4 linked regions of the Homo sapiens genome follow. The protein of the gene in region 4 purifies or fractionates together with the protein of the main gene of each other region. This does not show direct contact. Each region holds a gene or a part of one and is shown on either strand. Other genes may lie near its edges.

Evidence for each region.
Region 1: the proteins of CEP170 (region 4) and VTI1B purify together in Homo sapiens (affinity purification with mass spectrometry; 2 studies listed by BioGRID and IntAct, with this or other methods). This does not show direct contact.
Region 2: the proteins of CEP170 (region 4) and DAPK3 purify together in Homo sapiens (affinity purification with mass spectrometry; 3 studies listed by BioGRID and IntAct, with this or other methods). This does not show direct contact.
Region 3: the proteins of CEP170 (region 4) and ASB7 purify together in Homo sapiens (affinity purification with mass spectrometry; 2 studies listed by BioGRID and IntAct, with this or other methods). This does not show direct contact.

What each region holds. Positions count from the first base shown.
Region 1 is NC_000014.9:67,657,624-67,664,649, forward strand, and holds part of VTI1B (vesicle transport through interaction with t-SNAREs homolog 1B), read right to left. Parts: intron 4,913-7,026; coding exon 4,854-4,912; intron 2,300-4,853; coding exon 2,108-2,299; intron 1-2,107. UniProt on the Homo sapiens protein: V-SNARE that mediates vesicle transport pathways through interactions with t-SNAREs on the target membrane. These interactions are proposed to mediate aspects of the specificity of vesicle trafficking and to promote fusion of the lipid bilayers.
Region 2 is NC_000019.10:3,961,080-3,968,105, forward strand, and holds part of DAPK3 (death-associated protein kinase 3), read right to left. Parts: intron 3,913-7,026; coding exon 3,552-3,912; intron 3,295-3,551; coding exon 3,165-3,294; intron 2,841-3,164; coding exon 2,792-2,840; intron 2,591-2,791; coding exon 2,564-2,590; intron 434-2,563; exon of another isoform or gene 335-433; intron 83-334; coding exon 1-82. UniProt on the Homo sapiens protein: Serine/threonine kinase which is involved in the regulation of apoptosis, autophagy, transcription, translation and actin cytoskeleton reorganization. Involved in the regulation of smooth muscle contraction.
Region 3 is NC_000015.10:100,598,479-100,605,600, reverse strand, and holds the start of ASB7 (ankyrin repeat and SOCS box protein 7), read right to left. Parts: upstream 3,013-7,122; 5' UTR 2,555-3,012; intron 2,387-2,554; 5' UTR 2,288-2,386; intron 1-2,287. UniProt on the Homo sapiens protein: Probable substrate-recognition component of a SCF-like ECS (Elongin-Cullin-SOCS-box protein) E3 ubiquitin-protein ligase complex which mediates the ubiquitination and subsequent proteasomal degradation of target proteins.
Region 4 is NC_000001.11:243,126,277-243,133,302, forward strand, and holds part of CEP170 (centrosomal protein of 170 kDa), read right to left. Parts: intron 3,178-7,026; coding exon 3,084-3,177; intron 2,025-3,083; coding exon 1,973-2,024; intron 463-1,972; coding exon 173-462; 3' UTR 1-172.

The sequences.
Region 1 (7,026 bases), on a different chromosome or scaffold from region 4:
CCAAAATCAAAAGGGACCCAGCTCACAGAGGCCTAGTACAGAGCAAGTGACCACTGGCAGTAGGACCATCAAGGAGCCAAAAGATTGGCTCCCAGAACAGAAGTAGCAAGGAGCATTTTCTTTCTTTCTTTTTTTTTTTTTTTTTGAGACAGTCTCGCTCTGTCGCCCGGGCTGGAGTGGAGTGGCAAGATCTCAGCTCACTGCAGCCTCTGCCTCCCGGGCACAAGCAATTCTGCTGCCTCAGCCTCCCAAGTAACTGGGATTACAGGCACCCGCCACCACGCCCAGCTAATTTTTGTATTTTTAGTAGAGACAGGGTTTCACCATGTTGGCCAGGCTGGTCTCGAACTCCTGACCTCAGGTGATCCACCAGCCTCAGCCTCCCAAGGTGCTGGGATTACAGGCGTAAGCCACTGTGCCCGGCGCTCTGTAGCATTTTCACTTAATAAATGGCATACAGACCAGTAGACGAGGAAACCACTGAATGAGGTTCAAATAAAACCAGTTAGGTTAGCGCAAAGGAAGAAGGAAAAAGGTTTTCAAAATAAAAGATGCAGATTTTCAACTGAGTAGGCTAAAAAATGACTAAGAAAAGATCAGATCACATAAATGAACTTCAGACAGATTTGGAACAATACTTTTTCTGAAGGTATGGATACCTAAATTATGTTTTAATAATTTCTGAAACTCGCCAGGCGTGGTGGGTCATGCCTGTAATCCCAGCACTTTGGGAGGCCGAGACGGGTGGATCACAAGGTCAGGAGATGGAGATCATCCTGGCTAACACGGTGAAACCCCGTCTCTACTAAAAGTACAAAAAAAAATTAGCCGGGCGTGGTGGTGGGCGCCTGTAGTCCCAGCTACTTGGGAGGCTGAGGCAGGAGAATGGAGTGAACCCGGGAGGTGGAGCTTGCAGTGAGCCGAGATTGCGCCACTGCACTCCAGCCTGGGTGACAGAGCGAGACTCCGTCTCAAAAAAAATAATAATAATTTCTGAAACTCATAATTTTAAAGCAAAATTGTTTGGACTTCCTCCCCAACTTTGGCAACATGACTAAAGTCACTTTTACAACTCCCACTTTAACCAGCTCCACCTGCCTGCCTGTTTCCAGTCTCCCTTTACAAGTGATCTTCTGTCAGCTTCTAATCTGTGATAATCCCTCGCGCATCCATTTGAAAATTTTAAGTACTTCATTCTCAAGGGATCTAGTTTTGGCATCAGCAATGTCAAGCCAATATCATCCTGAATATCTCTTAAACTATAATCAGGATGCATCGTGAAACAGGATTTGTTTAAAATTGTAGTATGAGCCTTTCAGTCTGCACTGGTGGGCCCCTTTCCATTTCTCTGCCATGCTACTTGCCAGAGAATTTCTACTTTGTGTTGTGTTTGTGGAAGACAGACCAAATGCAGCACATTTAATCTTTCAGACGTTTTATTCCTTTAACGATCTAGCTGCTCTAGATGGTTTCAGAATACAGATGTTCAATTAGTCCAATTTTATAAATCAGAATCCTGAAAGCTAGAGAGGGAGTCTTGCTCACTTTCTATTACCACAGAATAAAATGATAAAAAGCTCCTTCTCGAGAAGCGCCCTGCATTGGCTACTGTATCTCAGTTGCTGGGCCATCTTGACATTAAGGTAAAGGAAAGCTTGGATTGATTTTGTAACAATATTCTGATAAATTAGAAACCTAACTGAATTTTCCAGGCATACCTGAGAAAGTGATTCTAAAATTTATATGAGAGAATAAAAAAGATCAAGGAGAAAAGAAATTAGATCAATGAGTCAGAATCCAGATAATAAGAATAGGTAACATTTACATTCTACTACATACAAAGCACTGTTTTTTTTTTATTATAAGACTGTATTATATTAAGGATAAAAAGAAATCTAAATATGCATATAGTTCGAAAGGCCTGCCTTAAATAGAGCAGATACCAAGGGGTAACAGGAACTGGATGCAGAAAAGAGGATAAGGGTGAAAAAAATGAAACAAGAGTCTAGTATACACTGATAACATGAAATACCCCAACAATATAGTTAATTTTTGTACCACAGGCCCTTAAAGGAAAAAAAAAACAAACAAAACAGCTAAAACTTACCATATGCTCATTCTCTACAGCATATATGCCATATTTCATGTCTCCTCGGCCTCCAGGTGTGGCTGTCAAAGGTGTGCTTCTCACCTCCCGATGGAGTTTAGCAAGGTCCTTCCGGTAGTTTCGAAGCTTAGACATCATGGGGTTTCGGAAAGACAGGGGTGCATAACGTAGCTCCTCCTCCATCTCTGCCAGCTGGGAAGGCAGAAAGTAGTGAGCAGATAGCCTGGTTCTTCCCTCACTCATTTGGAAATATGCCTAGTTTGGACTAATCAAACTACTTATTTATTTGGACTACACCAAGTAAATAACCATATGCTCCATGAGGCAGGGACCATGTCTGGCATGTTCCCCTCATTCTGAATGCCTTGCATAGTGCCCAGCAAGCACAGAGCAGGCATTCGAGTATATGAACTGAATGAATGAATGGAAAAACAGAAGTACTTTATAGCTTACTAAACACTTTTATATACATTCTCCATTTAATCCTCACAACAAATCAATAAGGTAGGAAATGCTCCATTTCATATATAAGACTTAAAGAAACCTCTGAAGATCGCACAAAAAGGAGTCCGGGCCAGGCACAGTGGCTCAAACCTGTAATCCTGGCACTTTGGGAAGCCGAGGCAGGAGGATCACTTGAGCACAGCCTGGGCAACATAGCAAGACCTCATCTCTATATATATATAAAAAATTAAACAGAAAAGGAGTCAGGATTCAAAATCTTCAAATTCTCTCAGCTCTCTTCAATATACCAAGTTTTTAGCCTGGTATGATTGAACATTGCCATCAAGAAGTGCTTTGAAGTCTACTGTATTAAAAATGATAGGGGTCTGGCATCAGGGTTCTTCCCTTCTCCTGCTCCTCTTTCTGAAAATCAATTAAGTTTGTCTCCATGTCAGAGAGAACAGGGGCCTACCCAGAGCAGTCTGCTTTAGGGGAATCAGACTTCCATTTTTCTGGGGTAAGTAAAATGTAACACCTGGACACATCCACAAGAGGCCCTAAATTATTTTCATCTGCCTGGAATGGGCAGCATAGGATTATTACTTTTGCTGAGTTTGGAGAAAACAAGTATCTGAGCATCAAACAAATCAGTAGCAGCTAGAAGATTTTAAAAATGCTACCAAGGTATTAACTGAAACAGGAGAATGGCTACAAACAGGTATCATGGATATGCCCAGCTGTACACAGGTATTAAGAAAAGCTCCCAGTACTCCCATTAGGAAGAAGATAGTTCCCACAGTCTAGTGGCCTGGTCTTTCTTAAAACAGATGCAAAACAGAGAAAAGGATGCAGATGTGCTTCCTTCTCAGAACTTCATTGGGATAAGTGGGAAATTGAAACACTGATCTTCAACAAGCAAGAAGGAAGTTCGCTGGCCAAAAGAGAATTTTTTCTCCATCTGCTCTCGGGTAGCAAATACAGGGCCAACTATTTCTGCGGAGTACTAGCAGCGACCAGAATTTTGGCCCCAATCTTAATGAGTTTGCTGAAGCTAGAGTATGATGAGATGGAGTCAAAGGACTCTTGCTTCTATAGGGCTAGAGCAAAAAAAAAAAAAAAAAAAAAGTTTTTTTTTTTTAAAGAAAAGCCACAGGTGAAGAGAAGCAGTTGTTAAACTGTTCAGTAAACGGAACCAACTTCTGACAAACTTTGGGTACCAACTGAGACTCATGCATGTCTTGCCTGAGGTACCAACTCCAGCTCCTATGTTGTCTCTTAAGACAGAAAGGGACATGGTTAGAATTACCTCTAAACTACATTTTCTGTGACAGTAGGTTTAACAAAGAACAGTAACCTTTTTTTTTTTTTTTTTTTTTTGAGGCAGGTCTCACTCTGTCACCCAGACTGGAGTGCAGTGGTGCAACTGTGGCTAACCACATGCTTGACCTCCCAGGCTGAAGTGATCTCCCACCTCAGCCTCCTGAGTAGCTGGGTCCAGAGGCATGCACCACCAAACCTCGGTAATTTTTTTTTGTTTGGTAGAGATGGGGGGTCTCCCTATGTCGCCCAGGCTGGTCTTGAACTTCTGGCCTCAAGTGATCCTCCCACCTTGGCATCTCAAAGTGTTGGGATTGCAAGCGTGAGCCACCGCACTGACCAGTAACCTATCTTAATGGCCAGCTCTTAAAAACAGATTTTAGGCCAGGCACGGTGGCTCATGCCTTGTAATCCCTGTACTTTGGGAGGCCGAGGCGGGCAGATCATGAGGTCAGGAGATCGAGACCATCCTGGCTAACACGGTGAAACCCCATCTCTACTGAAAATACAAAAAAACAGCCAGGTGTGGTGGCGCCCACCTGTATTCCCAGCTACTTGGGAGGCTGAGGCAGGAGAATGGTGTGAACCCGGGAGGTGGAGCTTGCAGTGAGCCGAGACTGTGCCACTGCACTCCAGCTTGGGCAACAGAGCGAGACTCTGTCTCAAAACAAACAACAACAACAACAACAAAAAAAAAAACAACAGATTTTAAAAGACTGCTTGGGTAAAAGTATGAGAATGCCCTTACTACTCACATCAGCAATATATTACCAAAGAGTCACATTTCAGGAGCATCTTCAGGCTTCACCCATTTGTTTGCCAAACCCCCTCAACAACCATCCCCATCAACTGGCTTCATTTAGTAAGAAATAGTCAAAATCAAGATCAATGGACAGGAACAGTTAATTTGTGATCAGCTCATAGCATTACTTCTGGAAAAGACCAACACCAGGTAGAAGAAACAAAATTTGTTCCTTGTTCTCACCGTTTCATTTGCTTCCTGTTGCTTTTCATCAAAATCCCTGATCAATTTCTTCTTTTCTTCTAGAAAAGATAGATAAGTTTCAAATGCTTATTACTGTTTCCACACATTTGTAAAGGCCATTCCCTCTGCTTCGAATAAGCTTCCTATGGCAGGGCCTGGTGGCTCATGCCTGTAATCCCAGCACTTTGGGAGGCCAAGGCAGGTGGATCACAAGGTCAGGAGTTCAAGACCACCCTGGCCAACCTGGTGAAACCCCATCTCTACTAACGATACAAAAATTAGCCGGGCGTGGTGGCAGGCACCTGTAATCTCAGCTACTTGGGAGGCAGAGGTAGAGAAATGCTTGAACCCAGGAGGTGGAAGTGGCAATGAGCCGAGATTGCGCCATTGCACTCCAGCCTGGGCAATAGAGCAAGACTCTGTCTCAAAAAAAAAAAAAAAAAAAGAATGTTTACCAATAGTGACTCTCTGAAACCCCTCACCACTCCCACAGTGAACCACTTCTATGTTAACTCGTACACTACTTTTCTGCAAAATAAAAATTCCACCTACTCGGCTTGCTGAGAGGCTGTCTGGTGTGGTGCTTGTTTTTCTCTGGGTGTGGCACCGGCAATGACTTGAACGATGAGAACGTTATTCATTCCCCTTTCAGCCTTTCCCATTCTGTCCCTTTGGTTGAGTGTATCTTTAATACCTAAAAATTACTAATCTCCCCTTTGAACAAAAATAGAACAGGCTTCAGCTTCAAAACAAACATCTAACTAAAACAGTATTGTCTTAATTGTATTTTCTGATAGTTTATACTACAGGTTTTCCATCTAAAATATGATAGCAAGTTTCATTTTTAAATAACATTGTTTTAAATAAATGTATTTTACATGAAATAAGTTGACATAAAGAAAATGTAAGTGACAAGGCTGGGCACGGTGACTCACGCCTGTAATCCCAGCAATTTGGGAGGCCGAGGCGGGCGGATCATGAGGTCAGGAGATCGAGACCATCCTGCCTAACACGGTGAAACCCCATCTCTACTAAAAAATACAAAAAATTAGCCTGGTGTGGTGGTGGGCGCCTGTATTCCCAGCTACTCAGGAGGCTGAGGCAGGAGAATGGTGTGAACCCAGGAGGCGGAGCTTGCAGTGAGCCAAGATTGTGCCACTGCACTCCAGCCTGGGCGACAGAGGGAGACTCCATTTCAAAATAAATAAATAAATAAATAAAATGTAAGTGACAGTAATAATGATACTTGCGGATGGCAAAAATTATGAAGGTGGTACCAGAATGCTGTCACCTGGTAAACATTTGTATGGGGGAAAGGCATACAAGCACCTTTTCTGGTTAGTCAGCGGGGTGAGGTTCTGGTGCCAGGTTCGGGCCTGCCTCAGCATGTAAACTTAGATAATTTCCTTCATTTCTTTGGGACCTCACATTCTCCTTCATTGACTACAAAATGAGGAAGTAGGTCATTCCCTTATATCTAACAAGCAAAAATTAGCTCCTTTTAAGAGGAGCTTGATTTTTTAAAAAAATTTATACATCCAAATGACTGTTCTCCCTGGAAATCTACACATAATCTACTTATCACCATAAAGTTACCATCATTTACAATGTTTGTTTGTTTGTTTCAAGACAGAGTCTCACTGGTCACCTAGGCTGGCAAAATACATGTAATATAAAATTTACCATTTTGACCATTTGTGAGGGTATAGCTTAGTGGCTAGGTACATTCACACCGTTGTGGAGCCATCACCACTAACTGTTCTCCAGAACTTGTTTATCCTCTCAAACTGAAATTCCGTACCCATCAAATACCTCCCCATTCTATGAATTTCACTACTCCAGGTACACCATTAAGTGGAATCATACAATATTTGTCCTTTGTGTTTAGCTTATTTCACTTAGCACAAAGTCAAGGTTCATCTATGCTGTTGCACGTATGGGGATATGGCCTTTTAAAGCTATGTATTTTTCAATGTGACTCCTAAACACAAGCCAGCAGCACTTCCACCAACTAAAGAGCAATTTTTTTTTTTTTCTTGAGACAGAGTCTTGCTCTGTCTCCCAGGCTGGAGTGCAGTGGCTCGGTCTCGGTTCACTGCAACCTCCACCTCCCAGGTTCAAGCGATTCTCTTGCCTCAGCCTCCCGAGCAGCTGGGGTTACAGGCACCCACCA
Region 2 (7,026 bases), on a different chromosome or scaffold from region 4:
GTCGAAGTCGTAGTTCACGGCTGAGATGTTGGTGAGCGTCTCCTGCTTGGTCTCGCCCAGGAACGGGGATGCACCGCTCAGGCTGCGAGACAGGCGTGGGGGCTCAGTGGGGTCCTGGGCTCCCACCACGGCCGCGCCGCCTCTCCGGCTGCCCACGACAGGCGGAGCACAGAAGACAGGCTGACGGCAGGTGCCTGGGCCACTCACACTCCTGAGCCCTTAGAACCTTCCTGCAACGATCCCAGACACCACCCAAGAGGCATTCAAAATCCACCCCCCCACCCCGCCACTGACAGCAGCAGAAATGAACAGGCAGAAGTCTCCTTGGAGACTCGAAGTATCTGTGCAGACGCAGAGCCCGAAAGCCCCCAGTGCTCAGTAACGCCGAGGGGAGGGTAACTGCAGTGGGGAGCCCGAGCCAACACCTTAGCCAAAGGATCAAGGTCAACAGCCCGGCAGTGAGAGGCCCCAACAGCGTCTGCCTCCCAGCCTGACGCTGGGAGGGTGACACAGCATCATCCCTGGGGTTTTGAGCAGAGACACTGAAGCCCCGTCTGATCGTCTGATCGTGACAGCGCACGAGACTAAACGTGGACTCAGACGCCTTCTGCAAAACACCTGACCCGTGAGCACAAGTCAGGGTCAAGGTCATGAAAGCCAGACAGAGGAACAGCCTCAGACTGGAGGCGGCGAAGGAGCTGAATGGCTAAATGCCGTGTGGGGACCTCAGAGAGGACAGGAGTGGAAAACGGGGGTGTCTAACCACCTCTGGCACTTTAAATTTTTTAAATTTTTTAGAGACGGAGTCTCGCTCTGTCACCCAGGCTGGAGTGCAGTAGCGCGATCTCGGCTCACTGCAAACTCCATCTCCTGGGTTCATGCCATTCTCCTGCCTCAGCCTCCTGAGTAGCTGGGACTACAGGCACCCGCTGCCACACCCAGCTAATTTTTGTATTTTTAGTAGAGACATGGTTTCATCGTGTTAGCCAGGATGGTCTCAATGCCCTGACCTCGTGATCTGCCCTCCTCAGCCTCCCAAAGTGCTGAGATTACAGGCGTGAGCCATCGCACCCGGCCCATCTAGCACTTTTGTGATTAGCGTAGCACCAAGGCTAACGTCTTGGTGTTCATAACGTTCGTGTTCATGAAAAATGTAAACTGAAGGAGGAGGAAGCTGCAGGGGGCGTCTGTGCTGTTTCTGTTGCTCCTTTGTAAGTCTGAATTATCTGAACATTTAAAAAGAATACAAACGGTCTAGCCCATCTCCTGAAGCCTTTGGGTCCGCTCACGCACTACAGCGGGCTGGGCCCACGCCATTGTTTATTTCCTTGCTTACTGAATGAGCTATGCCCATTCAATATGGCTGGGCAACACAGTGAAACTCCACCTCTACAAAAACTTTTAAAAATTAGCCAGCTGGGCACGGTGGCTCACACCTGTCATCCCAGCATTCTGGGAGGCCAAGGCGGCCGGATCACTTGAGGTCTGGAGTTCAAGACCAGCCTGACCGAAATGGTGAAACATCGTCTCTACTAAAAATACAAATAATTAGCCAGGCATGGTGGCAGGCACCTGTAATCCCAGCTACTTGGGAGGCTGAGGCATGGGAATCACTTGAACCCGGGAGGCAGAGGTTGCAGTAAGCCTGAGCTGAGACGGGGCCTTGGCACTTCATCCAGCCTGGGCAACAAGAGCGAAACTCTGTCTCAAAAAAAAAAAAAAAAAAAAAAAAATTAGCCAGCTGGGTGCAGCGGCCCACGCCTGTAATCCCAGCACTTTGGGAAGCCGAGGCAGGCAGATCACCTGAGGTCAGGAGTTCAAAACCAGCCTTGATCAACATGGTGAAACCCCGTCTCTTCTAAAAATACAAAAATTAGCTGGGCATGGTGGTGGGCGCCTGTAATCCCAGCTACTCAGGAGACTGAGGCAGGAGAATCGCTTGAACCTGGGAGGTGGGGGTTGCAGTGAGCAGCTGAGATCGCACCACTGCACTCCAACCTGGACAACAAGAGCAAAACTCCATCAAAAAAAAAAAAAAGTCCGAGCATGGGAGCATGGTTGTGTGCACATGTAGTCCCAGGTACTCAGGAGGCTGAGGTGGGAGGATTGCTTAAGTCTGGGAGGTGGAGGCTGCAGTGAGCTAGGACAGCACTCCAGCCTGGGCAAGAGAGTAAGACCCCGTCTCAACAAATAAAAATAATAAACAACAGCAGGCCCACGTGTGGCCCAGGGACAGGAGCCAAAACCCAGCGTGGGGTCGGACCCCTTCCTTGCACTTCGAGAGGAGGCTGGGCTCCCTAGCAGCCAGAGGGACAGGAGCACACACGACCCCCAACCCGGAGCCTGCTCAGCCGCTCTGTGAGTGTCCTGCCTTCAGAACTCTCCAGAAGCCTCTGTGACAGCAGCCACAGAGAATCACTCATCCGTTCACCCGGTATCCCCTGAGTACCCGCGATGGGTCACAGCCAGGCTGGGGACCCCTGGCGTCCACATGAGACACACGGAGCCGGGGACCCATGCCAGCTGTGTTGCACAGCCGAGGGGGCCCCCGCCAGGTACTCACAGGATATAGGTGATGACACCGATGCTCCTGGGGACAGACAAGAGGCAAGGGTCAGCGCAGCGTGGGGCCGCCCACCCTCCCAGGACCGTGGCGTCCAGCGCCCCTGTTCTAGGGCAACGGTCCCCCCATACCCCAACAGCAGCAAGGCCCCGCTTCATCCCCAGCTGCAGCACTGGCCTGCGCTCCAGGAATGCAGGGAGGCCCGGTGGGAGCAGGTGGTACACTCACCACATGTCCGCCTCCAGGCCCAGCGGCTCATAGTTCACAATCTCTGGGGCTGCAGAACAGGGAGATGTGGGTCAGGCACTGGGGACATGCTGGCCAAGGAAGAGGCTCAAGACACAGGCATGGGGTCAAGGTTCTCACATGTCGCAGCCCTTGGGGGCATGAATGCGGCAGAGCTGGCCCTCAGGGCCTGACGGGTAGGACAGCGGGGCTGCACCAAATGGAGGCCCAGACCTCCCGCAAAGCCGGGCCCAAGAGGGGTGGCTTCAGGGCCGAGGACGCGGCACCCAGCACCGGGCATGACCCACCCCACGCACAGCAGGCAGCCCCAGACCACCCTCCCCAGGCCGGGGCTGCCCACTGGGCAGGGCCTCACCCACAAACTCCGGGGTGCCGAAGATGTTCTTGAACTCGTTCCCCGCCTCGATCTTGTGCGCGATGCCGAAGTCGATGAGCTTGATTCGTGGGTTGGGCACGTTCTTGTCCAGCAGCATGATGTTTTCCGGCTGGGGTGGGAGGAGGCTCAGCAGGGAAAGCACGGGCCTCCCCCACCCTCACCCCCACGCTCCCCAAACCTCACCCTCACGCTCCCCGCAACCTCACCCCCACGCTCCCCCAACCTCACCCCCACGCTCCCCAAACCTCACCCCCACGCTCCCCACACCTCACCCCCACGCGCAGGAGGTGCCTTCCAGGCTCTTCCCCGCCCCATCCCCACCCCCACACTGGCCAGGCCGGCCCCACAGGGCCCTACAGGGCTCACCTTCAGGTCAAAGTGTGCGATGCGCTTAGAGTGCAGGTAGTGAACGCCGTCCAGGATCTGCTTGAGGAACTGGGTGGCCTCGTCCTCCGTCAGCGACTCCTTCTCCGCCAGGAAGTCAAAGAGCTCCCCGCCAGAGACCAGCTCCAGGATGAGGACCACGTCCGTCTTGTTCTCGAAGATGTCGTGCAGGGTGATGATGTTGGGGTGCCGGATCTCCCGCAGGATGTTCACCTCCCGCTCGATCTCCTCCCGGCTCACCCCACGCCGGCTGGATGACAGGCGGCGCTTCTTGATGAACTTGGCTGCGTACTCCTTGCCCGTGCCCTTCTGCCGGCACTTCCGCACGATCGCAAACTGGCCGCTGGAGGAGGGGGAGGGAGTGAGTGGGGGTGGAGGAGGCGGAGGGAGTAAGTGGGGGTGGCTGGCTCCCCGTCACCTCCACTTGCTCCTCTTGGGCGCGGCCCTGCACCAGGCACTTGAAGGACATGAGCTGGCCACTGCGGGGGTGCAGACTCTGCGCCTTCTCAGAGAGCAATTCCTTAGCGCCCCACACCATCAGACGCGGCGTTCCCACCCCTCCCAGGGCTATGCCCAGCAGGTGTGTGGAGGGGAGTGCAGAGCCACACGTTAACACCATGGCACCGGCGTATTTTTGAAAAGTGAAAGAATGAACAGTTCAATGCATATCAAGAGGGAACTGAGGGGGCCAGGCGCGGTGGCTCACGCCTGTAATCCCAGCACTTTGGGAGTTCGAGGAGGGCAGATAACTTGAGCTGAGGAGTTCAAGAGCAGCCTGGCCAACATGGTGAAACCCTGTCTCTACCAAAAATACAAAAAATTAGCTGGGTGTGGTGGCGGGTGCCTGTAATCCCAGCTACTTGGGAGGCTGAGGCAGGAGAATCGCTTGAACCTGGGAGGCAGAGGTTGCAGTGAACTGAGATTGTGCCACTGTACTCCAGCCTGGGCAACGTAGCAAGATCCTGCCTCAAAAAAATAAAAAGTGCAAGGCAAGTGCCAGATCCGCTTTTTTTGTTTTTGTTTTGTTTTGTCTTGAGACAGGGTCTGGCCCTGTTGCTCAGGCTGGAATGCAGTGGTTCAGTCATGGCTCACTGCAGCCTTGACCTCCTGGGCTCGGGCAATCCTCCTGCCTCAGCCTCTCAAGCAGCTGGGACTACAGGCACATACCACCACACCCAATTAATTTTTTTTTCTTTTTGTAAGGATGAGGTCTCACTATGTTGCCCACGCTGGTCTCGAACTCCTGGGCTCAAGTGATCCCTCCCAAGTAGGTGGGACTACAGGAACACACTACCACACCTGATTTATTTATTTTTTGTAGAGACAGGGTCTTGCCGTATTGCCCAGGCTGCTTTGGAACTCCTGGCCTCAAGAGATCCTCCCACTCCCCCACCCCAAGTGTTGGCAGTACAGGTGGAGCCGCTACATCTGGCCAGTATCCGCATTTTAAAGAAACCAAGGCTGAGAAAAGGAAAGCAACTAGCCCAAGGTCATGCAGTCAGTCAGTGGCGGGAGGATTCAAACCTTCAAACCAGGTGCTGCAGGCTCCAGAGCCCAGGTGCTCTAACAGGAAGCAGACAGCTGCTGCTGGGTACCGGGTTCCTGCGTGCCTACCTCCCGGCTCCACGCTGTCTCCTGCTAACAGACCCAGCTGTCCCAGGGCAGCCTTTGCCGCTCACTCTCAGTCTGTGGGACTCAGTGGCCCAGGAAAGGGGTGGAAGGGGACACGACTGGACCTGGGCAAGCAGAAAACCACGCCTTCCAGCCCAAAGAGACCGGTCCAGTCCACAGGGCTCTGAACGCCTGCTGGGAAGAGAGGATCTCTCTCTCCCTCTGCTGGGCTTGGATCCAGGCTCGCGGCAGGGGCCACCACGTAGAAGGCTACCTAAGAAGCCTGCCTAAGAACAGACCAGGCCAGGAGAGGGGAGCCACCAGGCACTGCGGGTGGCACATAAGCCCCGTCATTCACTCTGCCAGGGCGCCTCCTCCATGCTGGAGTGGACTTCGGCCCCGGGGACACAGGGCACCATATGCACCAGCACCCAGTCACACCTGCGGCCGCTGCACACCTGGACAACCTGGTTCTGTAAACCACGCCTTTCCCTGTTTTGCTATTGCCAACCAGATTTCAGGTTCTGCCACTGAGTCCTCCTACAGCAACAGCAGACCACAGCCGCCCACCTCCAGACAGCCCCCGGTCTCACTGGCCACAGACTTGCTCCTTAGAGGCAAGGCCACTGGCAGGCTCTCAGTTCCTCTACGGAATGTGAAACGTGCCTCATCTCCCCAGCCGGGAAAGAAACTCCCCAAGAGCTGAGCCCACCCTCTTCGCTTCTCTGTAACTTCCCCAGCCCCCAGCGCAGGTGGGGGCACAGCAAGCCCTCCTCAGTGATGGTCTCAGGTGTCACTCCCAACCCACTTCCTAAGTGCCTGCCACAACCCAGACACGACCCAAGCGTGGCCTACACACCGACAATTTCTACTGATAGAGTTCATGATGTTTAAAAATGCGGGCTGGGAAGCCGGGCACAGTGGCTCACGCCTGTAATCCCAGCACTTTGGGAGGCAAAAGCGTGCAGATCACGATGTCAGGAGTTCAAGACTAGCCTGACCAACATAGTGAAAGCCACGTCTCTACTAAAAATACAAAAACATTAGCCGGGCGTGCTGGCAGGCATCTATAATCCCAGCTACTCGGGAGGCTGAGGCAAGGAGAATCGCTTGAACCTGGGAGACGGAGGTTGCAGTGAGCTGAGATTGCGGCATTGCACTCCAGCCCGGGCGACACTGCAAGACTCCGTCTCAAAAAAAAAGTGTGGGCTGGGGCCAGGCACAGTGGCTCACACCTGTAATCCCAGCACTTTGGGAGGCAGAGGCGGGCAGATCATTTGAGGTCAGGAGTTCAAGACCAGCCTGGCCAACATGGCAAAACCCCGTCTCTACTAAAAATACAAAAATTAGCTGAGCACGTTGGTGGGCGCCTGTAATTCCAGCTACTTGGAAGGCTGAAGCAGGAGAATCACTTGAACCCGGGAGGCGAAGATTGCAGTGAGCCAAGATGGCACCACTGCACTCCAGTCTCGGCAACAGAGCCAGACACCGTCTCAAACAAACAAACAAAAATTGCTACATTCTGGGCCTTCATCTTGCACTTCATGTATCTCTGAGAATGTTCCAGACCACTACCTGAAGCAGTGCCGTCAGAACAGCAGACACTGGCCACCCAGAGCTGTCAAACCCGTGAGGTGTGGCCAGTCCCGAGAAAAACTGCGACATGAAATACACACCAGACCTCCAAGGCTTCACGGCAAAAACAGAAGGCTAAATACTTTTTTTAAAATTATGAATTTCTGTTTGTTTGAGAGATGGGGGTCAACTTATGTTGCCCAGGCTAGTCTTGAAGTCCTGGGCTCAAGCGATCCTCCCGCCTTGGCCTCCCAAAGCGCTAGAATTACAG
Region 3 (7,122 bases), on a different chromosome or scaffold from region 4:
TGGCTTTAGACTTTTTAGGGATGGTGTGTATCTCTATGTCACCAAAGTTAAACGTGAACAAATTAAAGAGATACTGTATGTGTCATAGTATTAACTAATTGTAAATGACATCACTTTATGTGTAAAGAATGTAAGTACTGGCCACAGTATACTAAAGATGCATCATTGCATATCTTCAATTAAAATCAATTATTCTCCCTACGTGATTATAAATCTATATTTGGTGACGAAATAAATTGGATTTTTTTTAAGCCACATGATTGGCAATAGAATTAATACAAAGCTAACTGCCAGGTTAAAAAATGTAAGCTACCTAACTAGCCATGTTGGTAAATAAATACCCAAATTAAATATTCTAAATGCCTGGTATAATCTAGACCAAATACTCTCAGTCATTCTGATATTAGAAACATGACAGATGTTGACAATTTACACATATTCCCTAATCTTAGAAAAACTATTAAAAAATGAGATGATCCATGAAATACGATTTAAGCAATGAGAATGAACTGGCTGAGAGCCAGAGTAAAGACTTATCCTCTCTTACCTTATGTGCTGGACTAGCCACAGACTCCTTCCCTTTACCATCTCAGGTGAAACTACTCTTTAGAAATGAAAGCGTCCTAGAGTTACATGTAAAGCTGAAAAAATATTTAACTGAGAGGCTTGAATACAAAACACAGTACTTCATTTTGATCTTTAGAACATACTTCAAATATTTTAGCATTTTTTAAAAGTTCTGAAGTAATCATTAGGCCATCTCCCTGACAACTTCCATACTTACATAATAAAAATTAGCCTTTAAAGATTTCCGGGTAGCTTTTACTGAAATGATGTAGTCTAGTACTCCTGATTCCCTACATATACATACAAAAGCTGCCCTAAGTTTTCAACAGGGAACAGTCATTGGTAGATACTGATTCTAAATCCTATTCCCTAGAATCTCTTCTTTTGGCATGCAGTTCCATGTCTCAAGAATATGCATACCTCAGATCCCCTTAAAAGCTATGTCTTTATCTCTTTAGCTATGTCTTAAGAATTAACAGAATCAGTAAAGATACTAATTTCTTTTTGTGGAGGGCAGAAAGTCCAGTGGAACATAGGAAATCAAAAATATTAACTTCTGCTATTTTAAGCACTTCCTTGTAACAAAAATTCCCTAAACAATTTGGGATATTAAAATAACTCAGATTAACAAGTCACTTTATACTTTTGCTACTGGATGTTAAAAAAGTCATCCATTTGGCTAATTTTGGAATTAAACCTTGTATAATTTCCATGCTTATATCCCCCCTTTAGGAATTACACTAATGTCCTAAGTTTACTTTCAGAGCATTTTCAGAAGCAGCAACAAAATATGGCAGCAGAAATGTGATCACATGAATTAGATGCTTAAATTTCAATCCAGCAAACTCTACGTAAAAGTTTTAAAATGAGAAATCTTTTTTATAGAGTGCTAAAATTAAGACCCAGATATGTAAACACACCAAAAGGTTCCTTTGTTTTTAAATTCCTGAGTCAAACGATTAATAAGATATTGTGCAAATTTTTAAAAGTTCTCCTAGAAAATCTGAGGTGTAAGAAACATTGTATCTTTATAAGTTTCAAAGCCCATCCACATTTGTCACACACAAACACACAGAAAGCCCAAAGAGTTAATTATGCCTAAGTGCTTCAGGGTAATAATGTTGTCTTCATACCATTCACACTCTTAAGGTACACAGGTTGGCTTTCTAGTAGGAAATAAAATCAAACTATTTTCTGAAACTCATAAATCTCAGGCCAATAATTTACCTTTCTCTACCAAATCGTTGTCAGTTAGATAACTCAAAAGATTTTTCTGATGCAGGTAGAAGAAAGGTGATAGGAAAGAGTAAGGGGGAAAACAGTAAATTGTGGTTTAATTAAAAAGGAAAGTCATTCAGAATTAACAAGCAATTAACAAGGAATTGAGGAATTCCTATGAGAGTAAGGAAGGGAGGGTAGCTACAAAAAGGTCTCAAAGCCTCAGAGCAGAGTAAATGGCACAGTGTACCAAAAGATAATGAAAAACACAGAAACACACTGTACAGAAAGAAAGTGGGAAAATACTGTCCTGGGTAGAGAAGTTATAAAATGTTAAGTATCAGGCACGGGTAATGTTTTTGTTTTTCCTGGGAAACTGGGGGTGGGGGTGGGGGGGGTAGGAAAGGTTGCATTCCCAGGCAACCACCCTGAAAATAAACCACTGCTTAATGAGGTAGGGGCCAGGAATAAACAACGGGGGAGGGGAGGGCTGGCTCATTACCTTTACAGACGATGCTGGTCAGAGGCACTGTGCCTTCTGCTTCTCTGATAGGTGGGCAGACCTCTTCCTGCTTTCGCGTCTTCTTCAGCCAGCTCAAACCTAGAAAAACAGAAACCAGTGAGTGGTGTAGTGTCTCAGAGGTGGGGAGGGGGGAGCTCAGGAAAGGGGCTGGAGAGTGGCAAGGGCAGGCAAGAAAAAGCAGAGATTTTCCTCCCTCCTACCCTCCCAGCCAGCACTCTTCCCCTCGGGGGAAGTAAAGGACTTTACCTGTCTCCTCAGCTGCTGCTTCTCTTCCTCCTTTCAGCCTCCTCTACACTCACCAACTTCTCCATTGAAGAAATACCCCAGGCAGGGCCGGACCCTGGTGTTCCTGATCCTCCTCGGTGCCTCACGGCCCCAGCCCGGCGAACATCCGAACAGCCGAGAAGGCAGGAGGTGGCGATCCCGGCCGCCGGGCAGCCTTGGGGCAGAGGTGCAGGGAGGCAGGGAGGAAGTCCTGGCTCGGGTGGGGGGGCAGTCCCGGTCCAGGGCTCGGAGCAGGGGGCTGCCGCGCTCCGGGCCGGAGGCTTCCAGCTACGGAGGGACCCAGGAGGTCTCGGGACGGCGAGGTCCCAGGTCATACGGGGCCCGAAGTGCCAGCCGTGGGGTCTCCGGACAGGGGGCTTTCGGGATGCACTTTGCACTGGGCCACCCCCGCCCCCTCCCTTCAGCACTTTGGGGTCACTGGGATGGGACCAAGCCTTCAACAACCAATCAGCGCCCGCAGTGGAGCCTGAGCCTGGAGCCGTAAACCAGGTCCGGGATGGGTGGGGGTGGAGGGAGTAGGGACGACTTGGTTGGTTGGTTGCTTCCTTCTCTCCTCCTTACCCCCGGCAGCCCCCACCCTCTGCCTGCCGTAAAGTTGCCTTTGCATTCGCGACAGTTAAGGGAGGCGTGCCGAACGGGGCAGAGATTCGTCTCCGATTGGTCTCACTCACTTCCCCTTACAGCTTCCCCGTGGTGGCTTCCGAGGCTCCGCCCCTGGCGGAGGGACTCAAAGCCGTTGCTAAGAGACACTATTCGCCGAAGGCGGTCTCTGCGCATGCGGGAGGAGGTGCCAGCTTGTACTTTCTGTGAACTACGGTGGCCCAGAGCGGGCATTTGTGTTCCCTCAAATGGCGGTGTGAAGAGAGTTCGCCTGAGCCAGATCCCAGGCAGGTAACCGGGACCGGCCGCCGTGCTGGCAGCAGGGGAGGCACGAGTGCGGCCAAATGAGAGCCTGGTTCAGGGCTTAAGGTTGGGAGGGCGGCAGGCTCCAGGAAGCGAGTAGAGGGGTGCCTTGTTTCTCCGCCCCTGTTCAGCGCTTGTCAGACGCAAGTGCCCGGTCTTGGCGCGGCTGTCGGTCCTTGAGACCCCGTTAGCTTCCAGGCTGGCAATGCCTCGCCTGAAGTGGGAGAACGGACTCTCTTTGGGATAGCGATGACGATCCAAGGACCTTCCTGAAAGGATAGCAACGTTGGCGGGTTCCTGTGAATGAATGGAGAGGGGTCGTGGGGAAAACGCGAGATAGACTGATCAAGACACGTTTGTTAAGCACTTTATTCATTAGCAAGTGTTTACTGGCCACTGTTCTAGTCCCTGGGGAGACAACAGTGAACAAGATAGTGATTTCGGGGAAACAAACACAAAATTATCAGATAGGGATGGGTTATATGAGGAAAATCAAGCAGAATGGTGGAATCGATTTTGACCAGGACGTGATGGGCTGTATTAGATAGGTAGTGCTATGGTGTGAATATCTGTCCCCTTCAAAACTCATGTTGAAATTTAATCCCCAATGTGGCAGTACTGAGAGGTAGAGTCTTTAAGAGGTGGTTGGACCGTGAGGGTTCTGTCTTCACGAGTGGATTGATCTATTCATGGATTAATGGGTTATCACGGAGGTAGAACTGGTGGCTTTTTAAGGAGAGACTTGACAACTCGTGAGCCTGCTCAGCCCCCTGGCCACGTGATACTTTGCGGTGCTGTCTCGTGGTCCGTCAGTCTTAGACTTCCCAGCCTCCAAAACTAGACAATAAATTACTTTTCTTTATAAATTACCGAGTTTTAGGAATTATTTTATAAGCAACAGGAAACGGACTAAGACAGATAGGAAAGGTCTCTGAGGAAGTGACATTTGAGCAGGGATCTGAATGACAAAGAGCCAGCCATGCCAAGATCTAGGGAGAGAATTTTGCCAGCAGAGAGAATTAGAAATGCAAAGCCTCTGATGCTAGAATATGCTTTGCTGTTTACAGGAACTGCCAGAAAGAAGGCTAGGGTAGCTGAAGCAGAGTGGTAGGAAAATGACTGGTAATGAGACTGGGGAGTGGGGCATAGAGATGAGAAGACGCCGAGAGTCAGATCTTGAAGGGCCTTGGTAAGCCTTGTTTAGGAGTTTGGACTGTATCCTAAGGAAAGTGGATTGGTTTTTCAGAAGGAAGTGGGTGTAGGGTGGGCCTGGATACAACCACTTTGGAAGGGATCGGTTGCAGTTGTCCAGAGTAGAAGTGCAGTAGTGGCAGTGAAGATAGATTCAGCTTTTTAATTTTTGTCCCATTATACTTCCCAGCAATCATATTTCATAATTTCAACTTTCTAAATTTCCATTTCTTCTTGAAATTAGTAGCTGAATTATAATTAGAAACAACTTATTCAGGACTATTAAATGCTATCAATTTTTAGTAGCTTTCGGTCTTTCGATTCTACCATGATTTCTCCCTGTTTTTTTTTTTTTTTTTTTTGCTTAACAGCAGGACTCCAATGTAAACAAATAAAATAAAAGCGGTATTTTATTAGTATTGTTAAATGAAATGTATAGGAAGCCATTGTTTTAGATTAAACCCCTGCACTAGGCCCAACAGACCAGGCCAAATCAGAATGGAGTTGCTGGTGCTAGGTGTCACATAATCAAACAACTTAGAAATGGGCCAGTTGTCAAAAAATCCAGAAGATACACAGCAAGGAGTCAAGGAGGCCTGATTTACCTGAGCCAGCATGATAAAGAAGTCTCTCCTCCATTTGGTCTCTGTGAGGAAAGTTTAACTTTGAAATGACCAATCTGTCTTTTATTCTCTTTTTGCTTCTTCAACCGTTTTCAGCCCACCTCTGCTCAGCTAATCAGAACACCGTTTCTAAATTTTTAGTTGAGATGCTGCCAGATTCATAAATTGCTAATAAAAGCCATTTACATCTTTAAATTTGTTCAAATTTTGTTTGTTTTTGTTTTTGAGATGGAGTCTCCCTCTGTCGCCCAGGCTGGAGTACAGTGGTGCGAGCTTGGCTCACTGCAACCTCCGCCTCCCAGGTTCAAGCAGTTCTCCTGTCCCAGCCTCCTGAGTACCTGGGACTACAGACACACTCCACCACACCCAGCTAATTTTTGTATTTTTAGTGGAGATGGGGTTTTACCACGTTGGCCAGGCTGGTCTCGAACCTCTGACCTCAGGTGATCCACCCGCCTCGGCCTCCCAGAGTGCTGGGATTACAGGTGTGAGCCACTGCACCCAGCCTCAAATTTTGCTTTTTAACAGTTCAAATATAATGTACAAGTTCAGTTTTATAACATTTACTAATTATAGAGTCAAGAAGTTTTGAACTCCCAAAAAGAAGGAAAAAGAGGGAGAGAGAAATGAATAAATATGTAAATTGTTGTGGAGAACATATTCATTCTTATAGCAGACTCGGCACCCATGCAATTCATATGGTGTATTTGCTAAATGATAGTTAAGTAGAGAGATGGGGGCCTAAGAACTTGTTGGTGAAGAGCCTAGAAACAGAGTTGTCTCCTAATTCCTAGTTCTTTGTATTTCTGGCCATTTGTTTTTCATTAAAAATCCTGCCTTTGAGTTAAACAACCATTTTCAAATGATTGAAGTACATGATTATATCATAGCCAAGTAACATCATATTGTCAAAGTTTCACAGAATGTGCTACTAGGTAATTTTAAATTGCTTTATTGAATTGGTGCTATCAGATTTGCTAATTTTTATAACTTTTCAATGATGTAAAAGCAGTTTAGATTGCGGAATATTTATAACAAGTTAATATTGATTAGGTTTTAACAGATACACTTCATTTCCCATTAACTTAGTTAATAATATAAAACTCACAAAAATGGGAACATCTTACAACATATAAGTGAAATAATTTGGGATAAGTATTCATGAAGCTTGATTCATGAAACCCTGACTCAATCAGAATTGAGTTTATTTCTTGAGTAGAAAGAGACTTTGTCATTGGAAAAATGCCCCAGCACCACTGCAGCAATTCTGATTTAGCTGGTCTCTAGGGAGTCCAAGGCTCATGGGTTTTTCCTAATGTTCCAGTGATGTCAGTGTCAAGGTCAGATTCCAAGGTCAAGGACCACTGCCCAGGAGGCTGTGTCCTGGCCCATAAAGCACTTGGTGGTGGAGAGAATGAGCAGGTTATGCTCTAGTTGGCAGCAGGCAGTGTTCTGGGCCAGCAGGTTGTGTCTGGGGATCTTGGTGTAATAAAGAGGGCCACCATAAAGACAGATGCAGCACAGTTTGGAGCCCATCATTTGCCTTGTTAGCCCAACTTAGTTCAGCTGTACCTGGCAGAAAAGGCGATGGGGCTGGGTAGAGAAATTGTATTTCAGACCTTGGTCATCACAGCAAAAAGAACGCCGAAAGAAAGGAAGCTAACTGGAGGCTTTTGAGTTCCTTATAGTTCTTGCCCTGGTAATTTAAGGGATTTTGGTCTTCTATGGTATTCTACCACAGCCATTTTAAGATGGTGCTTCAGTGTGTGTTGCTTCTGTCAAGTACGTTGTCAGATGTGTCATACGGTAAAG
Region 4 (7,026 bases):
AAGGATTGATATACTACATTATACGTCAAAAATAAATAAATAAAATTAAGAAGACAGGGATTCCAAGATTGTAGCTGACCAAGCTGTCTTGTTTTGCGTACATCAACACTATGCTGCTTCCAATATTCCTAGCCATTCCACAGGTAATGATTTTTCAACAATCAAGAGAAAGTCATTCTTGTACTGTAACATCTTCCTCTTCCCCATCGGGGTTGAATCTATTGAAATGTATACTGAAATCAGCCTCAGATTCAGCATTCTCAAATTCAGCTGCGGCTGAAACAGCAGCAGGATGAAGAGCCCTAGCTTCTGGTTGGCCAAGTGTTGGTGTCTGACCCGGGCTGTGGTGGTTATTCACAGGGCTGGACTTCTGTTTCGGTGGAGATGGCAACATAGCACTGGGAAATCCCATGTTGTTCAGAGCCTCCAAAGTTCCATCAGGATCAATCATAGCATTGATTGCTAAAGGGCGGGAAAAGGAAATAATTTTAGATGCAGTTACATTCACATATAAACACTGTTCATGATTTGGATAATATTTAAACTATCAGTGCGTATGTGATCTTAAATGTGGCTAATCTTCCAATATTATATTTAAAACTCCATTCTTAGTTATTCTGTAGCTGTACTGTAAATCACCCAGCCCTGAATACTTTCTCTGGGTCCTTTGATGTGGCACTTACGGGCATTTCAGAGACTTGTAAGTCTGGTATTTGAAGATGTGGAATTCAAGAAAAATCTTGTTGAAATTTGTCTTCATTATTGTGAGAGGACCGAGAAAATACTGAATATGATTTTTAATAAACATCTAAACCCACATCACTCAGATAACTGAGGTATTAGCTGCTAAGTCAGGGTTCAGAGTAACCTCAAGGCTGGAGAGGCCAGAAGAACATCAGCATACTTTGAATGCTACCATAGAATACGGTCATTTAGCCTGGCCAGAGTGCTAGGGTTATCAGCTGTATACACCACTGAGATACAGGGGTTCCCTCAGAGCCTACAGACTAATATCACAGGGCAGCTTGCAAAGCCAAACAGACTTGCTGCCTATATGGAAGGGGTCAGTTAAAGGTCAGCTTTCAGTCCAAAAGATCTTTGGGTTGACATGGAAAGTTCTCAGGCGGTGATTTTCAATTTGGCATTGGGCAGAGTAGGGAGTTGGGAGAAGGAAGTAACATAGATGTAAGAATCATGTAGAAGGGACTTTTAAAAGTATACCCCCAGTCTACCAGCTAACAAGCACTGTGTTAGCAAGCCACTTTTACTCATGGGGTGTACCATAACCCTTAGGTGTGTTGGGGCTAAATAAAGATGAAAAATCATTTTGATAGGATCCACATAAGTACCTATGATTATTCGATAGATAAAGACTCAGTAGAATTAGCAGTTGACTATGGAACCTGCCTGTTGTACCACTGGGGACTTCTGGGTCAAGACATACATAGGCATTAATGCACAGCCCAGCTCTGACAAGTTTAGAGGGCAGCCTCTTTCACTTTCTTCTCTCCTTTCTCTTCTGGTCTCTATGGCCAATATGTACTCATTTCTTGTCAACCAAACAACTATTATTTCTATTAGAATGTAAGTTTGTTTCAGGTTACACCACCAACATAATTTAAGAACTGTCAAATCACACAAATAATGCTAATTAACACAACTTTATTATATATTTTTCACATATTATTTATATGTAATACATAAAAAATTTCAATTAGTTTATGACATCTAGCCTACTGTCAAACCTATGAACTAAAATATGCCCAACATATATCTTTATTACATTTTAAATTTTTATACTGGGTTTAAAAAAATTCCTTTTTATGAATAATGTGAATGTTTGAACTCTGTATTTTATGTATGTCATTACATTTAATCAAATAACATCCTAACAATATTTTAAGAAATACCACTCAGAAGGCACTTATTCTAAATTATTAGCTCTTTATACTTAATTCAGTAGTAAATTTACCTTGCAGCTGCTTTTCTACTCTTTTCAGTTCCTGTAAGATAGAAGAAATCTCCTGCAGGGAAAGCAATAACAAAAATTAGCCTACTTTTAGCTAAATGTTATCACTTTACAAGCAATGAATTTCACTCTCACTTTATTTGGAACACTTAATATTATCTACATGGTACTTACTACATTAATAGCAACATGATATGAAATAATTATGATATCTAGCAAACAAGATTCAAATTAAAATATTTAAACTAAAATGAAATACAATAACTTTTTCAGTGAGATGATTGTAGCAGATGAAAAGTTTAACATTTACTACTATTTAAGCAAAGATTTTTTTTTTTTGAGACCGAGTCTCACTCTGTCGCCCAGACTGGAGTGCAATGGCGCAATCTTGGCTCACTGTAACCTCCTCCTCCCAGGTTCAAGTAATTCTCTTGCCTCAGCCCCCAAAGGAGTTGGGATGATAGGCGCCCGCCACAATGCCTGGCTAATTTTTGTATTTTTAGTAAAGACAGAGTTTCGCCATATTGGCCAGGCTGGTCTTCAACTCCTGACCTCAAGTGATCCGCCCTCCTTGGCCTCACAAAGTGCTGGGATTATAGGCGTGAGCCACAGTACCCGGCCGCAAAGATTTTTAAAATTCTTATTAATCAACCTTGCAATAACTATGTAAAAATGCCTTCAAATTATCTTTGTAAAAACATATAAACTGCAACCTCAATATTATAATTATATTCTGAGCAATGAAAATCTGTACAAATTCTTTTAAAAAGAAGATAAGCATTATATTAAGTAAACGGAAACGACTTATGTCAACTTAATATTTTCATGTTAGATTTGGTTCTCTTTAAAAATTTCATGTTTCTAATGTTTAATTATTACAAGAACAATCTATACTAGTAAGAAACACAAAAGGCTCCTCCTTCATACCCTCTGCAACTTTGAAACAATCAACATTTTAAACCTGTGAGTCAGTAGAAGAAATAAAATTTCCCAAAATTTTGCATTTATATCTTCTTTTGAAAAAGCAAATCAACGAACAGCTCAAAAATAAGGGTCTTTTCCTTAAAATAAAACTCTATTAAAATGTTTTAATCTTCAAGAAAAATTACTATACCATGCTTGAGGTTTTCACAATAGGGACTTCACTTTCGGCTCTTAATTTGCTTTCTATGTCATCCCAATTCCGATCTTTGTCTTTAAATAATATTCTATAAATCAAAAAACATAAGCATATAACTTTTTATATTTTAAAAACCTATTACTTTTTTGTTAATAATACCAAAGCAATGTATCTTTTCAAAGGTACACAAAGAAAAAAAACCAACCACCGCATAAACTGAGAATTAAAATACTAAGCCAACAGTACCAATTAATTCATGTGTATGAGCTCCAATTGAATGCTTATTAATACATGCATAAATTCTTTACTGTTTATCTTATTCTTTATTGAAAACAAAATATAAAACAAATGTAAATGATGTTATGACCTCAAAACTTTAATATTTATAATTTACAATACAGTAATGCCCTCTTATCCACAGTTTCTCTTTCCATGGTTTTAGTTAGTGGCAGTCAAGCATGGTCCGTAACTATTACAGTATTTTGGGAGAGGGAGAGAGAGAGAGAGAAAAAAAAAGACCACATTCACATAACTTTTTTTTACAGTATATTGTTACAAATGTTCTATTTTATTATTAGTTACTATTGTTAATCTCTTACTGTGCCTAATTTATAAATTAAACTTTATCATAGGCATGTATGTGTAGGAAAATACACAGTATATTAGGTTTTAGAATTATCTGTGGTGTCAGGCATCCAGTGGGTATCTTGGAACAACATGTATCACCTGGGTATAAGGAGAAAAGACTGTGTAACTGTCACTTATAAAGAAAATGCAATTTTATTCAGACAGAATATATGCAGTATAGGAATAAGTGAGATGAAAATAGGTTGAATTAGGTATAAACAATTGTGTCTGTTAAGACCTCTTTATATGGGAATAAGCACCTTATCGATCAAGAAAAGTGTGTATATTATTTTGAAGACAAAAAATTGGGAGTACTTACTGTGCTTTTCTTTAACAATTGTTAATTCGTGTTAGTATACTTGCACATAATAACCTATTAGGAATTAGGATGCTACCCTTTTGATAAAAACAATTGCCAATAAAGATAATTATCCTATCATTACCCTAACATCAAATAACTTATAAAATAAAGGACCACAAAATTTTGACGTGTCTTTCAAATGTGGGACACTTTTCTAACACTTTAGAGTCTATCAGACATGATTCAGCAGTCTTAGATGTAAATACTAGCTACTTTTTTGGTTTCTTTTAAATTTTTTTCAGTAAGCCTGGAAATCTAGTTTAAACAACACTATATAACCTCATGTAAATGTATTACTACTGCAAGCTGATCAGCATTTAAGTAGTAAACTAAGTTAATATTTGTGCTGGTATTTCTTCAAAGATCAACATGCCAGACTTACCTTATTTAAAAACATGAAACTCATTAACATCACATCAAGTCTGGAACATTTGCTTAAGGTGGCAACGGGTCTAGAATCTGGTATAAGAATATTCTTATGGCCTACTTATTAAATTTTCTAAACTCAAAAAAATGAACACCCTTGCCAGCCATCTTTTCTAAATTATTATGTTCTTGTAAAAGAGTCCTTGCAGCATTAGGACTGATGGAAAATAAGGAAATAATGACTATTTCATGGACCAGCTTAGAACTGTAATGGACTTATACAATAGAGAAAGACTCTGTTTAGCCACACAGTGCTAAAAATTCAGTGAATTTTTCCAGAGGATGGCTACTGAGTATAGTGTTTGTGGATCTAAAACTGTTAAACCATAGACATTTCACCTTTGGTGAAAATGGGTTTTTCACGGGTTGCCCCTGAAAAAAAAATGCCCCCCTGAAGAAATAAATGGTTTATTTTAAAATACAGTTTGTTGGCCAGGCACAATAGCTCATGCCTGTAATCCTAGCACTTTAGGAAGCCAAGGTGGGTGGATCACTTGATGCCAGGAGATCGAGACCAGCCTGGGCAACATGGCGAGACCTCGTCTCTATAAAAAATACAAAAAAATTAGCAGGTGTGGTGCAGATGCCTGTAGTCCTAGCTACTAAGAAGGCTGAGGTGGGAGGATTGCTTGTGCCCAGGGAGGTCGAGGCTGCACTGAGTGAGTGAGTTGTGAACATGCCACTGCACTCCAGCCCATCTCAAAAACAAAAAACAAAAAACAAAAAAACAAAAAAACAAAAAACAATTTGTAATATATAATAGAACAGATCTAAGAAGTCAAACTTGTCATTTTGGCATTATGAAATAAACTTTACTATAATATTTACTATAATATTTAATATTTAAATACTAGAGAATCAGAAAACCAGACCAAGAAATTAGTTTAGACCAGGCTATAATGACCAGAACTTGTTTTTGTTTGAAGGTCCTTATCAATTTTAAGCTGAAAAAATCATAGCTTTCAAAGTGATATTCAGATTATATTATAGATTCAAAATAAGCTAAACTTCAGCATGAAAATACATAAAATTCCAAAGCTTATTTCATTCAATAATTTAAGAATTAAGTTAAAATACTTTTGATAAAGCCATTGGTTTTAGGGAAACAAACAGAAGTCTCAGGCTCCTATTCTATGAGCCATAACCAATTCCCTAGTACTAGCCCTTAAAACATGCGAACGCGGAGTTGCGAATTGAGAGTCTACCAATGCAAGGCCATGCTACACAACCTAAGGGGGTCATTTTCACATGGAATGCAATGAGAATGCTGTACAACAGGAGTTCCTGTATAAATATTTAAAAATGGATTCCACAGACAGTGTTCATACAATGTAAGTACGCATGCCTCTAGGATGAACCCCAGTAGACATTTGAGGTTATAACTCCTGACACAAAGCTTAAAGACCAGTTGATTCTCAAACTACCCTGGCACTTTCCACGCAGAAGGCCCAGGTCTCTACCCCTTAGGTTTGGTTATCACAACTCAGACCTACCTTTGAATAGTATCTTCTTCCCAAAGCCTTCCCTAAACCTCCTAGGTGAAAGTGATCCTTCCTTTGCCTTTATATCTCTAACTGAGCACTAATCTATTATACGCTATCTTGTACGACAGTTGATTGCATATGTGCCTCACCTTGCCAACTACACTGGAAACTCTTTAATAATAGAAATGGTTTTATCCTCATTACCTTCCATAAAGCCTGCCATAGTGCTTTATGCATAGTAAAACTCAACACTCGAACTGAAGGCAATTCAAATACATTAAACATTCTGTATTTATGTATAACTTTATTGAGGCATTTTTATGCATCCTTTTTTAAACTTTATAAATTCTGTCACTTTCTGAGACAACACAGGTTATCAATCCATCAGCAATGTCTTCTTTGTTCTCAATTTTAGTTCAATGTCAAAGCTACAAAAAATATTTTTCTTTGGGGGAGACTACAGAACGTAGGAAAGCTGCTCCGTGGTAAGGAAGAGAATGGTACACAGCAGGTAATCTGTGAACATCTGCTGAATAAATGAATGAGTGGTTAAGACTCCAGTTAGCAGGGACGGACCTGTATTTCAGTAGGTAGGATGAAAAAACACTGTGTACTTGTTTACAGGTAAGGAGACTCCAGGGTTTTCCAGGTGCAAGCCACATGACCATACAAGACTCTCATGATATTTTTACAGATAGCACTGGTGTATCAAGAGGACCCATATTGGATATATTAGCTTCCTATGGTTTTTAATAATAAAATCCAAACTCCTTAACAAATTCTGCCAAAACAGATCCATCCTCATCTCTCTAGTGTCATCTCTCACCATACTCTGGCCCTTTCACTTCACATAGCTTTTGAGTAACTCCTCTCCTCATCATTCAGGACTTAAATTGCATGGCAATTTCTCTAAGAGCCCTTCTCTGAATTTCCCAAGTGCCCTTGCTATGGGCTTCCATAGTAACCATCCTATATTTCCCTTAACACACTGAACTATAATTAACTGTTTACCTGCCTTCTACACTCAAATGTGAGGACA